Linked DNA regions of Homo sapiens: region 2 is linked to region 1. The links come from fine-mapping of genetic effects on gene expression. A gene starts in region 1. The other region holds a variant in brackets. All regions are shown on one strand. Distances are from middle to middle.

Region 1 (5,501 bases):
GTGGTCTCGAACTCCTGACCTTAAGTGATCTGCCCGCCTTGGCCTTCCAAAATGCTGGGATTACAAGCGTGAGCCATCGCGTCTGGCCAAGAATTTTTAATTGCAATAAATGATGAGACATGACAAGTTCTATGGTGGCCATAAATAAATGCATGTAGCAAGGAAAATGAGGTTACATAATGTATACATTATTATACCTTGATTTTCCTTATGTACATTGTTATTGATAGTACACAGATTTGACATGAGGTTTAATTAGTATTTATAATGTATTTAAGAATATCCTACTAAAGCATATGGTGTTTAGACACAGTATTATTAAACATAATATTTTTTACATTTATATGTCACTTTTCATTTGAGGCTTTCAATTCAATAATTAATTGTTTCCTTAATGTATGATTTCCACTTCATTTCAGGGGAAATTGAGGAACAGGCAAATTTTCACATGACAGAATATAATAAAGTTTCCCTTTACAATACCCCAATCATTTTGCAACATTTTTTAAATGAAAAATTTTAAACATACAGAAACGTTTAAAGAATCTAACATTTGCATATGTACTCTTTCATTATGGGTAACACATTTAATTGTATTTTGTTCAGGGCTAGAGCACTGGAGGTTATACTTATTAAATCAATCGGACTGGCCGGATGCGGTGGCTCATGCCTGTAATACCAACACTTTGGGAGACTGAGGTGGGTGGAACACTTGAGCCCAGGAGCTCAAGACTAGCCTGAGCAACATGGCAAAACCCTGTCTCTACAAAAAATACAAAAGTTAGCCAGGCATAGTGACACAGGCCTGTAGTCCCAGCTACTTGGGGGGCTGAGGTGGGAGGATCGCTTCAGCCTGGGAGGTTGAGGCTACAGTGATCCACGACCATGCCACTGCCCTCCAGCCTGGGTGACAGAGCGAGACCCTGTCTCAAACAAAACAAAACAAAACAAAACAATCGGACAGATACATGTTTTATAACCCAGTCTTGGTGAATATAAAAATGTTCTATTTGCTACCTTAGGAATTTAGTATGATTTAGTATGCTTGATAGTATCTTTCTCTAGCTTTGAAAAAAAAAATCATGGGACAGGTACAGTGGCTCAGGGCTGTAATACCAACACTTTGGGAGGCTGAGGCAGGAGGATCGCTTGTGTCTAAGAGTTCCAGACCAGCCTGGGCAACATGGTGAGACCTTGTCTCTACAAAAAAATAAAAAAATAGTGGGTGTGGTGGTGGGCACCTGTAGTCCTAGCTACTGGGGAGACTGAGGTGGGAGGATCGCTTGAGCCCAGGAGGTTGAGTCTGCAGTGAGCCGTGATTGCGCCATTGCACTCAGCCTGGGTGACAGAGTGAGACTCTGTCTCAAAAGAAAAGAAATAAAAATCATGGAAGACATCTATTCTGTCTTGTAAAAATTTAAGGTATATGAAAAGAGTAGAGGAGGAGGAGGAGGGAGAAGGAAGAGAAATTATTTATTGGGATCCAATATGTGCCAAAGATAGTATTAGGCATCCTTGCATGTATTATTTCATTTGATCCACATGACTACCCTGTGAGATGTTATTCCCATTTTACACATAAGAAAACTGGCTAAGAGAAGTCAAGTAATTTGTCTGCGGCTGTGAATTCAATTTAAATTCACAGCTTAAACTCTTTTCACTACATCTGAATGCATCATTTTCAAGATCTTTTCTGGGCCTGGAGTAAGTTGACAGTATTTATGTAAAACATGTAATACTGTATCTGTATGTATGCTCCTCTTCCCCACGCTCATTCACATTTACCGTGATTAATACACATGTTAATAAAACCCTAGACTTAGAACTAGGATATAGAATCCAGTCGTTTAGGTACTTAATGTTTAGTTCTCTCCTCCAGAAAACAGGAATAATTACCGCCTTTTTTCCACTCCAAAGAATTGATGTGATAATTAGGGAGATAAGATTAGTTACTAGTCATAACAAGAATAAACTACAACTCCCAAAATGCCCAGAGGAAGAGGCTGACGCCAGTCCAGGAGACAGTTCCAGCTTTAGGGCAAAGGTGACCCCACTGGGTCCCGTGGCGAAAGAGAGAGCCGCCGGTCCTCGCCTTTTTTCTGATGCATCCAGGGATTTGTAGTTCCCTTACGGCCACCAAGTGCACTTAGGGCAGGCCTCTTACTACGAGTCCCGTGATGACCCGAGGCCGGGCAGCGCCTGCGTATTGAAGCCGAGGGAGCGTGCGGGCGGTACTACTGGCGGGAGGAGTAAAGATGGCGGCGCGAGGGTCTCCGCCCTCTGCTCCGGGCTGAAGCGCTCTGAGAGAGGCGGCAGCGGCAACTCGAGCCCCAACAGTAATTTAGTGTTGGTAGTTTTGGCAGCAGCTGCCGAGGCCGGAGCAATGGCGGAACTGGAGCACCTAGGAGGGAAGCGGGCAGAGTCGGCGCGAATGCGGCGGGCAGAGCAGCTTCGGCGCTGGCGGGGCTCGCTGACAGAGCAGGAGCCTGCGGAGCGACGAGGCGCGGGGCGGCAGCCGCTGACCAGGCGCGGGAGCCCCAGGGTCCGCTTCGAGGACGGTGCTGTCTTTCTGGCCGCCTGCTCTAGCGGGGACACCGACGAGGTGAGAAAGCTTCTGGCAAGAGGTGCTGATATCAACACGGTCAACGTGGACGGCTTGACAGCCCTGCACCAGGTAACTCCTTTCTTGGTCTTAGAGGCGTCCAGTCTCCTACAGATGAGCCTTTGACCCTGCGAGCCACCCCATGGGGAGTATCAGTGTTGCCGCCGACTCCTTCTGCATGGACACTGCCCTTTTGGGCTAATCGGTTTCATTCTTGGCCAGCTTCCTCCACTAATCAAGTCTTTTTCTGACCCCAGGGTCTTAGGAATAGCGTCACCCCGCTGCTTGGTCAGTGTTTGTATTTCCCTCCACCTACTTGTGTTGTCATGGTTACTGGTGATTTTTGTCCCTGGTCTTATCCCTGTAGATTAGTTATCTTCACTTATGTCTGGTTGGCGTGCCTGCACACCGCGTCACTCATAGGCACAGTGTCATTTGTTTGATGCCCTTTCAGAAAATTCAGTTGTTGTGTGTCCCCGTTATAGAATATCTTATATCACTTAAAGAGTAAAGCCCTTTACTGGGTAAAGACAAGCAGGTCTGAAACCACACCTCTTGTTTTGTTGATTTGTAGTACTTCAAAACAGTTTGTGTTGCCTCTAGGCTACAGCTCCTAGAACACGCTGGACCTCGTTGTTTTAGGTATCTTAACTTCCTTCTCAGCAGTGCTACCTCCCTGAGAGCTTCCTATGGAGAACTAAGTTACTGAATTACCTCTGTTTGATACTTATGGAATAGCTTTTCTATTTTTCTATTTTTTTTTCTAAAGTGCTCTATAGAAATCCCATGCCCCATGTATAGCTATACTATATGGATTGTGGATAATCTGTGCTTGGTAACGACACCTTTACTTCTGTCACCTAATGCAGCAATATTCTCTGTCTACTGACTGCCATGACTAACTACCCCTCTCTCCTCAAATGGAACTTCATCAGTTATTTTGGTGAGCTGAGAGCCGGACACCCACTCTTAATCTTTTGTATTTTTCTTCTTCTGCCGTCTGTGCAAAGTGAATGTATTGGCATGAGAATCTACTTCTAAATAATAACTCAACTTTATATCAGACCACTTCCCTAAATATATTTAGCCAATAGCTTAAAAAGTTACTTCTCACTATGTTTGCAACCCTTCTATTTCAGGTAGAAGAAACTCTTTCACCCTATTTTGTACCCATTTTTTTTTCCTGCTGATAATATTTCCCCACCTGAGGTAGTAACCAATATTTGTAGAGTGCTTTGCTGTTTGATTTCATATGTCTTACCCCATGTGAGTTTCAGCAGTGATCCTTTGAAGTAGGTGTGGCAGGTAGTGTTGTTATTCTCATTTTACAGATGAGGAAACTGAAGCTCAGGAAAATTATTTGTGCAAAGTTAGAAAGTAAAGAAGTGGCCCATAGGCATGGATTTTTCAGACTTATGTCACAGAGATCTCTATCTCACTTAATAAGGAGCTGAATGTAAAATGAGATAAAAGCTAAGAGAACCACATTAAATTCTAAACTTTAAATTTCTGAACTCTTTGGGAAGGTGAATTCTTGTTTTTCTTTTTCTTTTTCTTTTTTTTTTTTTGATTCAGAGTCTCGCTCTGTTGCCCAGGCTGGAGTGCAATGGCGAGATCTTGGCTCACTGCAACCTCTGCCTCTTGGTTTCAAGCGATTCTCCTGCCTCAGCCTCCCGAGTAGCTGGGATTACAGGCGCCTGCCACCACGCCTAGATAATATTTGTATTTTTAGTAGAGATGGGCTTTCACCATGATGACCAGGCTGGTCTCAAACTCCTGACCTCAGGAGATCCACCCTCCTTGGCCTCCCAAACTGCTGGGATTATAGGCATGAGCCGCTGTGCCTGGCCTAGTAATCTATTGAAATAAGAGAAGAAGGGGATGACAGCTATGGATTTTTTTTTAACATCTATAAATGCAATATAAGCATTCCTTTCCATTTATAGGGCTGACAAGGAGTTGAACTGAACAAGTATACTCGATTCTAGACAAATTCAGCTAAAAATTAAGCTGCTTAAAGATTTGAGGTCTGTTGAGAAACTGTATCTTTGAATCAAGACAACGGGCCTTTATTGGCTTCAGAACATTACAAGTCAGTTTCCGAAGAGTTACAATGTGTGTCTCCATGACTTGGAGAAGTTTTTGTTGTTGTTGTTGTTGTTGTTGTTGTTTAAAAAAAAAAAAAACAGTGTCTCACTGTATCTCCCAGGCTGGAGTACAGTGGTGCAGTCTCAGCTCACTGCATGCAACCTCCGTCTCCCAAGTTCAAGCTATTCTCATGCATCAGCCTCCCAAGTAGCTGGAACTATAGGTGCCCACCACCATGCCCAGCTAATTTTTGTATTTTTAGTAGGGATGGGGTTTCGCCATGTTGGCCAGGCTGGTCTCAAACTCTTGGCCTCAAATGATCTGCCTGCCTCGGCCTCCCAAAGTGCTGGGATTACAGGCATGAGCCACCGCGCATGGCCGACCTGGAGAACTCCTAAGGTACATAAAAGACTATTTTCAAATGGGAGACTGGAGCTGTTGGTAGCTGAACCACCTACTTTACAATGGATTCACCTTCTGTGAAATGGAGAGTGAGTGGTACAATTATCTGAATTATTTATTTAAAATGTCCATTTGTTATACAAGCACGATATAAATTATCTGGATAATTGCTTCTTTTCTCTCTTTTGGCCATGGCCACTTGACCAACTGTGGATTATTGTCTTGGCATGTTAGAAGCCCCCAGATAATACTGGGGGACAATTTTTCTCCTCCTACAACGTCACAGTAGATGATTTGCACTGCAGCTTGTGGTGCCTTGATGCTTCTTTTGGACTTAGAGACCTTCTTTCTTGGCAGCCTTTGCTGAGACCACGAGGTGCTTGAGTCAAAGATAACAAGCTCCAGGGGG
Region 2 (5,266 bases), 200 kb after region 1:
AGTGAGCCATGATCATGCGCTCGCTCACTCGCTCGCTGTCTCTCTCTCTCTCTCTCTCTCTCTCTCTCTCTATATATATATATATATATATATATATAATTTTAGTATTTATAAGTATCTATGATAAAACTCAGGACCTGTTAAATTGTAACAAGTTCTGAATTAGTAGGGCCTGAATTACTGAGGTTTTTCTCATCTGAGGAGACCCTTCCCTGCCAAAACCAAGAAAATAAACTACAAAAGCATCCCCTGTCCCAAAAGTCTACATTTTAAAATACCTGTTCTGCTCTGGGAGGTGGTTTAGCCCCCTAAATAAGAACCTTGTGCATTTGAAGACTCAAGTTCCCTATTGGGGGTATGAAAGTGGAAGAATCAAAGAAAGCTTCAGTTCTTTATCCTTCTGAACTTCATCTTTCAAGGCAGACTAGCACTTTGGGATGACTGTGGCCCTCGCAAGGCCCCAACTTATGTAAGATCACTTACAAGTCACACATAATAGTGTCATTTTTCATGACCACCCAGTTTCAGACTTCAAGCTGATGTATCCACTAAGCTTGTTCCTTCCATTATCACCTTGCCAAGAATATCTAGTCAGTATTGGTCTCTCCCTTTCCTAACTACCCCTTTTTATTTACTGTATGTACTAGATGGTCTAACATTTGATTGCATTTAATCAATTACCTTTTTTTTTTTTTTTTTGAGACGGAGTCTCGCTCTGTTGCCCAGGCTGGAGTGCAGTGGCGTGATCTCTGCTCACCGCAAGCTCTGCCTTCCGGATTCATGCCATTCTCCTGCCTCAGCCTCCCGAGTAGCTGGGACTACAGGTGCCCGCCACCACACCTGGCTAATTTTTGTATTTTTAGTAGAGACGGGGTTTCACCGTGTTAGCCAGGGTGGTCTCAATCTCCTGACTTCATGATCCACCCGCCTCGGCCTCCCAAAGTGCTGGTATTACACGCATGAGCCACCGTGCCCGGCCAACTTTCTTGAATTACACTCTGTTTTATGAGTGTGCATATTTTACCTCCTCAGAGAAGAGCTCTTTGAGATCAAAGAGCCATGTCTTAGATTCTGTAATTGTCGATTTTATTCCTGTAAGTACTACTCACAAGGCTGGGCACATACAGGTGCTTAATGTAAATGCAGGGAATGAATGCTGCTGCCTGAGATTTGATCTCTCCGCTCCTATCCCATTTAGCCATCTGGAAAGGAGTCAGAGGCCACACACACTTGAGAATCTTATTTCTAACATGAAGGCTAACCATAGATCTTCCCAAGTCAATTCAGATTCCTGTTTATTGCAATTTGCTAGTATATTGGTCACTCCAAAATATGTGAGTTAATATTTTTGTTTTTGTGGGAATCAAAAGAGAAAAAGCCTGTGGAATCTACTAGAAATAAAAAGTTCTACCCTATGTTACTTAGGTCCCAAGTATTAATATTTATTTCCTCATGAAATGTGAGGTCTGGAGAGCCTCACTAATTCCTTTGTAAAAGTTTTGATTCACAGCCTAGTCCAAATAAAAATAAAGTTACTGCTACCCAAACAGGCTGCTGGACTGTGACATTTACCATATGAAAAAACCCGTCTCTTCCCAGGCTTCATGGAAAGCTTACTTCCTAAATAGGTATAATGGTGGTCAGTAACATCATGACAGGCTAGTGGGGAGAGACCTGGAATCTCAATTAGAGAAATGGAGTGAAACTCAAACAGTGGGATTTAAGGCCTAAATAAGGACTTTTAAAATTTACGATATACTCTATGCTGTATTCTAACAATATTTTGGAGGGACTGATCAGGCTTCTTAGGTGTTCATTGAGGCTGTGTTTTTTTTTAAAATCATCTGAATGTATTTCATAGTTTCAGATGCCCATACACATCTGTGTGAACCTAAAACTCCAAGCTATGGGGAAAGTAAATATAGATATTAAATGTGAGAAATGTGACCCATGTGCTAGAGCCACACAAGTTTTAGAGCTCCTCATTCCCCTGTTGGTCATTTTCATCCTATATAGTACACAGCATGTGAAAGGCTCGATGGAAAATATGCCGGAGGCTGCAAATGCATTTATGAATCACAAGAGTTTATGAATTATACATATAAAATGGCTTGCCTTAGGTATTTTATGGAGGCCTTAGTATATCCATATATTTCCTTCTACAATGAGTGCATTTTGTGAGTTTCCAAAAGATCAGAAATTCTTCAGAAGCTGGGAATATTCACAAAAGGGAGGTGCAGGTCTGCATAGATGCTAAGAGCTTTAAAATTCTAATAATATTAGGTAGCACAATAGAGACAACAAAAGATGAGTCTATCATTTAATGAACTTAATGGTTTTTCTTTTAAAATATAGTGATATGTGCTGCAATATGTGAGATGATGTTACATGATATCATTTTTACATGCCTTAAATTGATAGGGTAGTCACAATCTGGCATATGAGATTTTTCAGAAATATTTATAATATGAACTGAATGTAAATACTGTATTTGACTATGTTTAACTTTTTGTTCTATATGTATTAAGTAGTCAGTAAAGACAAATCAAGACATATAATATGATGAAGACATATGTGATTTAATACTTGCTTTTAAAAGTTAATTTTTCCTTGGAAGTATACTCTCTTACACATATGTATACCAGGTCACATGGACGCCTGTTTTTTTCCCTGCATAAGACAGCACTTTTGGTATTGCCCTGATTCTGAATGTATGTAATCACCTAGTGCAGCTGAGAGGCCATGTGCTATGGATGTTTCTTTTAGGATGTTACAGATAAATTAAACCATTTTTTTTTTAAGGGAGATCCTTGTGATAGTTGGAATTTCTAAAATGCCTCCCCAAAAGTCCTCACCTGATCTGTAGAACCCACGTATATGACAAGATAGCTCTCGCATGATTGTTCTGTTACATAGCACAGTTGACCTTAAGTTAGGGAGGTTTTCCTGGGTGGGCCTGAGCTAATCACATGAGCCTGTGAAGGCAGAGAGCCTTCTCAGCAGATGATGGAACGGGAAGCCAGAGAAATGTGAAGTGCGAAAAGAACTCAGTGCTTCAATGCTGGTTTGAAAATCAGAAGGGCCATGTGAAAAGGAAT[G/A]TAGGAGCTTCTGCAAGCAGTAAGCAGCCACTACCCTGCAAGGCAGTGGGTACCTGAAACCTCACAGGACTGGATTCCTGCCAACAGCCTGGATGAGCTTGAAGCAGATTCTTCCCCAGATGCTCCTGATAAAAGCCAGCAGCAGACTCCTTGATTTCAGACCGTTGAGAACTTGAGGAGGGAACCCAGCAGAACTGTGCAGACTTCTGACCTACAAAACTGTGAGATAATAAATGGTTTTAAGCCACTAAATTTTGTTTTGGCAGCAATAGAAAACTAATGAAATTGAAAATTTGATGATAATTTTTTTGATATAAAAAACAGCATAGGCCTCATTATCATTGCCCTCTACTGTCACATCTTTGCATAAATCTTGGAAGTTGTTGTTCCACCCTCACATTTATTTCCAGATTATGCAGGATCCCCAGATAAATTACTAGAACAATGCAGGCTTCACTTCAAAGTTAGAGACTGGTAGATTCTCTTTATTTCAAGTTTCCTAAGAATCTTCTCTGTTTGAATTATGAAGAAATCTTTTCCCTTAAGATAGAAGGATGGAAAACTTTTGTCTCTCTTAGACTTATATATGAAACCAGAATGATTCTTAAACTCAAAAGTTACAAAATTATACTATTTTGCAATTAACTCAGACCATGATTAGGTTTGCAGTACCTCTGAAAATTTGAAGGGTCCTTGCTGCAGCCACACTCACATCATTGGCTTGTTCATCATCAGTCAATATTCTGAGAAAACTGAAGGGAAAGAAGATGGTTCTCTGTAGACCATCCCAGAATAGCTCAAATTGTTTCCCCTGGCTCAGCTAGTACACAAGAACATAATATAAAATGTTCCTTCTGCTTAGTCCCTCTTCAGGAGAAAATGTAAATAGAAGTTTTTTCCCATCACTGTGGGGTCAAGCCATGACTTCAAAAGGAACTTGAGTTAAACCAGTTTCAGCCTTGGCAGCAGACATGTGACTTGGTCTCATTCCTTTCCCTTGGGCCCAGCTTTCCTGAGCCACAATTTTATTTTAAACTTGGTAGGAGTTTGGTTTTAATTATGTGCCTTCCTGAACTCCTGATAACTTTCAAGTTAAAAGTTTTTGTGGGGATTTTTCTAAGCCAGTCTCTGGTGTTTTGAGGGCCCTACACATTTCACAAATCAAAACCAGTCTGGTTTCTGTCCCTTTCTAGGATTGCCATCTGAATTAATGGTGATCTTCATTCTGTTCTTTTATTAGAAACAGGCCCAAGCAATGAGATTATTACGGGAGAATTTCAAGAGGTATGAAAGAAAGAAGTCTGCTTCTTAGTTTTGGGACATTTTTAAAACTATGGTCTATCCAGCTAATCATTCTTTTTACCTCTACTCTACAATGTATTCATATTGGTTTCTGAGCAGCTTTTAGTCTCTTCTTCTCTAGAGTCTCATTTACATTATCTGTTGTCCCCAGTTGGGCCATAAAAGCTGTGAAAGTAATTCCTTCTTTGAACAGTTTCTATCTAGTTCAGACACACTAGAGAGTCTCATTTTAGTGGCCATCATTTGTCTTCAACAGAAGGTAGAGCAAAACAATCTTTAACAAAAACACTTAGAGAAGTTCTAAGACTTCCAGATTAGAGCATACAGCATAATAAATTTGTGAATTAACCTACCAATTGGAGAAAAGATTCATGCCTTTTCTAAAATATATGATATCATCATGTGCAGATAAGCTATTCAGACTCTACTTACAGAGTAGACTAACTTCTGTTTTTGAGAAGAGAGAGGGAGTGTACAGAGGAGGAGGATGGAAGGATGGGACCATTGCCAGAGCATAGATAAGATGAGTCCGCATTCCTAGCCTCTAAAGGATCATCGATTTGGCTGGAGTCCCTAAGCCTTGTGTTCTAGGACTTCCCCTTATTTTCTGCCCACTCAGCTGACCTCTTAGAATCCTCTTCTCTGGGAGAAGCTTCAGTGTTCATTTCCCTACCTTATGTTCTGCTTGCCTCTTCTGATGTCACTTCCTGGCTCACTGTTCCCCTGAGATTACTTAGGCAAACTCCCACTCTGTCTTATCTCCTCTAGATTTACTTAGTAGTCTCCCTGCAGGGTTGGCAGTCAGCTTTCTTGAATGAAGTCGTGTTAGTCTAACAGTTGATTTGATCTGTGCTTAGTTTGAATGA

Evidence for each region. PIP is the estimated chance that this variant, and not a neighbour inherited with it, causes the effect. A credible set is the group of variants that fine-mapping cannot tell apart.
Region 2: its variant is the best candidate, but not a certain one, in a credible set for the expression of PPP1R12B in whole blood (INTERVAL, PIP 0.82).

What each region holds. Positions count from the first base shown.
Region 1 is chr1:202,346,469-202,351,969 of GRCh38, forward strand. PPP1R12B (protein phosphatase 1 regulatory subunit 12B) reads left to right here and starts at 2,231. Exons shown (of 24, transcript NM_002481.4): 1 at 2,231-2,674. The coding sequence starts at 2,384. RefSeq lists enhancers at 1,978-2,518, 2,190-2,499.
Region 2 is chr1:202,548,739-202,554,004 of GRCh38, forward strand. All of the region lies in intron 18 of PPP1R12B (protein phosphatase 1 regulatory subunit 12B), which reads left to right. Among named protein-coding and RNA genes, the nearest start is that of SYT2, 160 kb to the right of the region's middle. The variant G/A (reference allele first, on the strand shown) is at 3,099.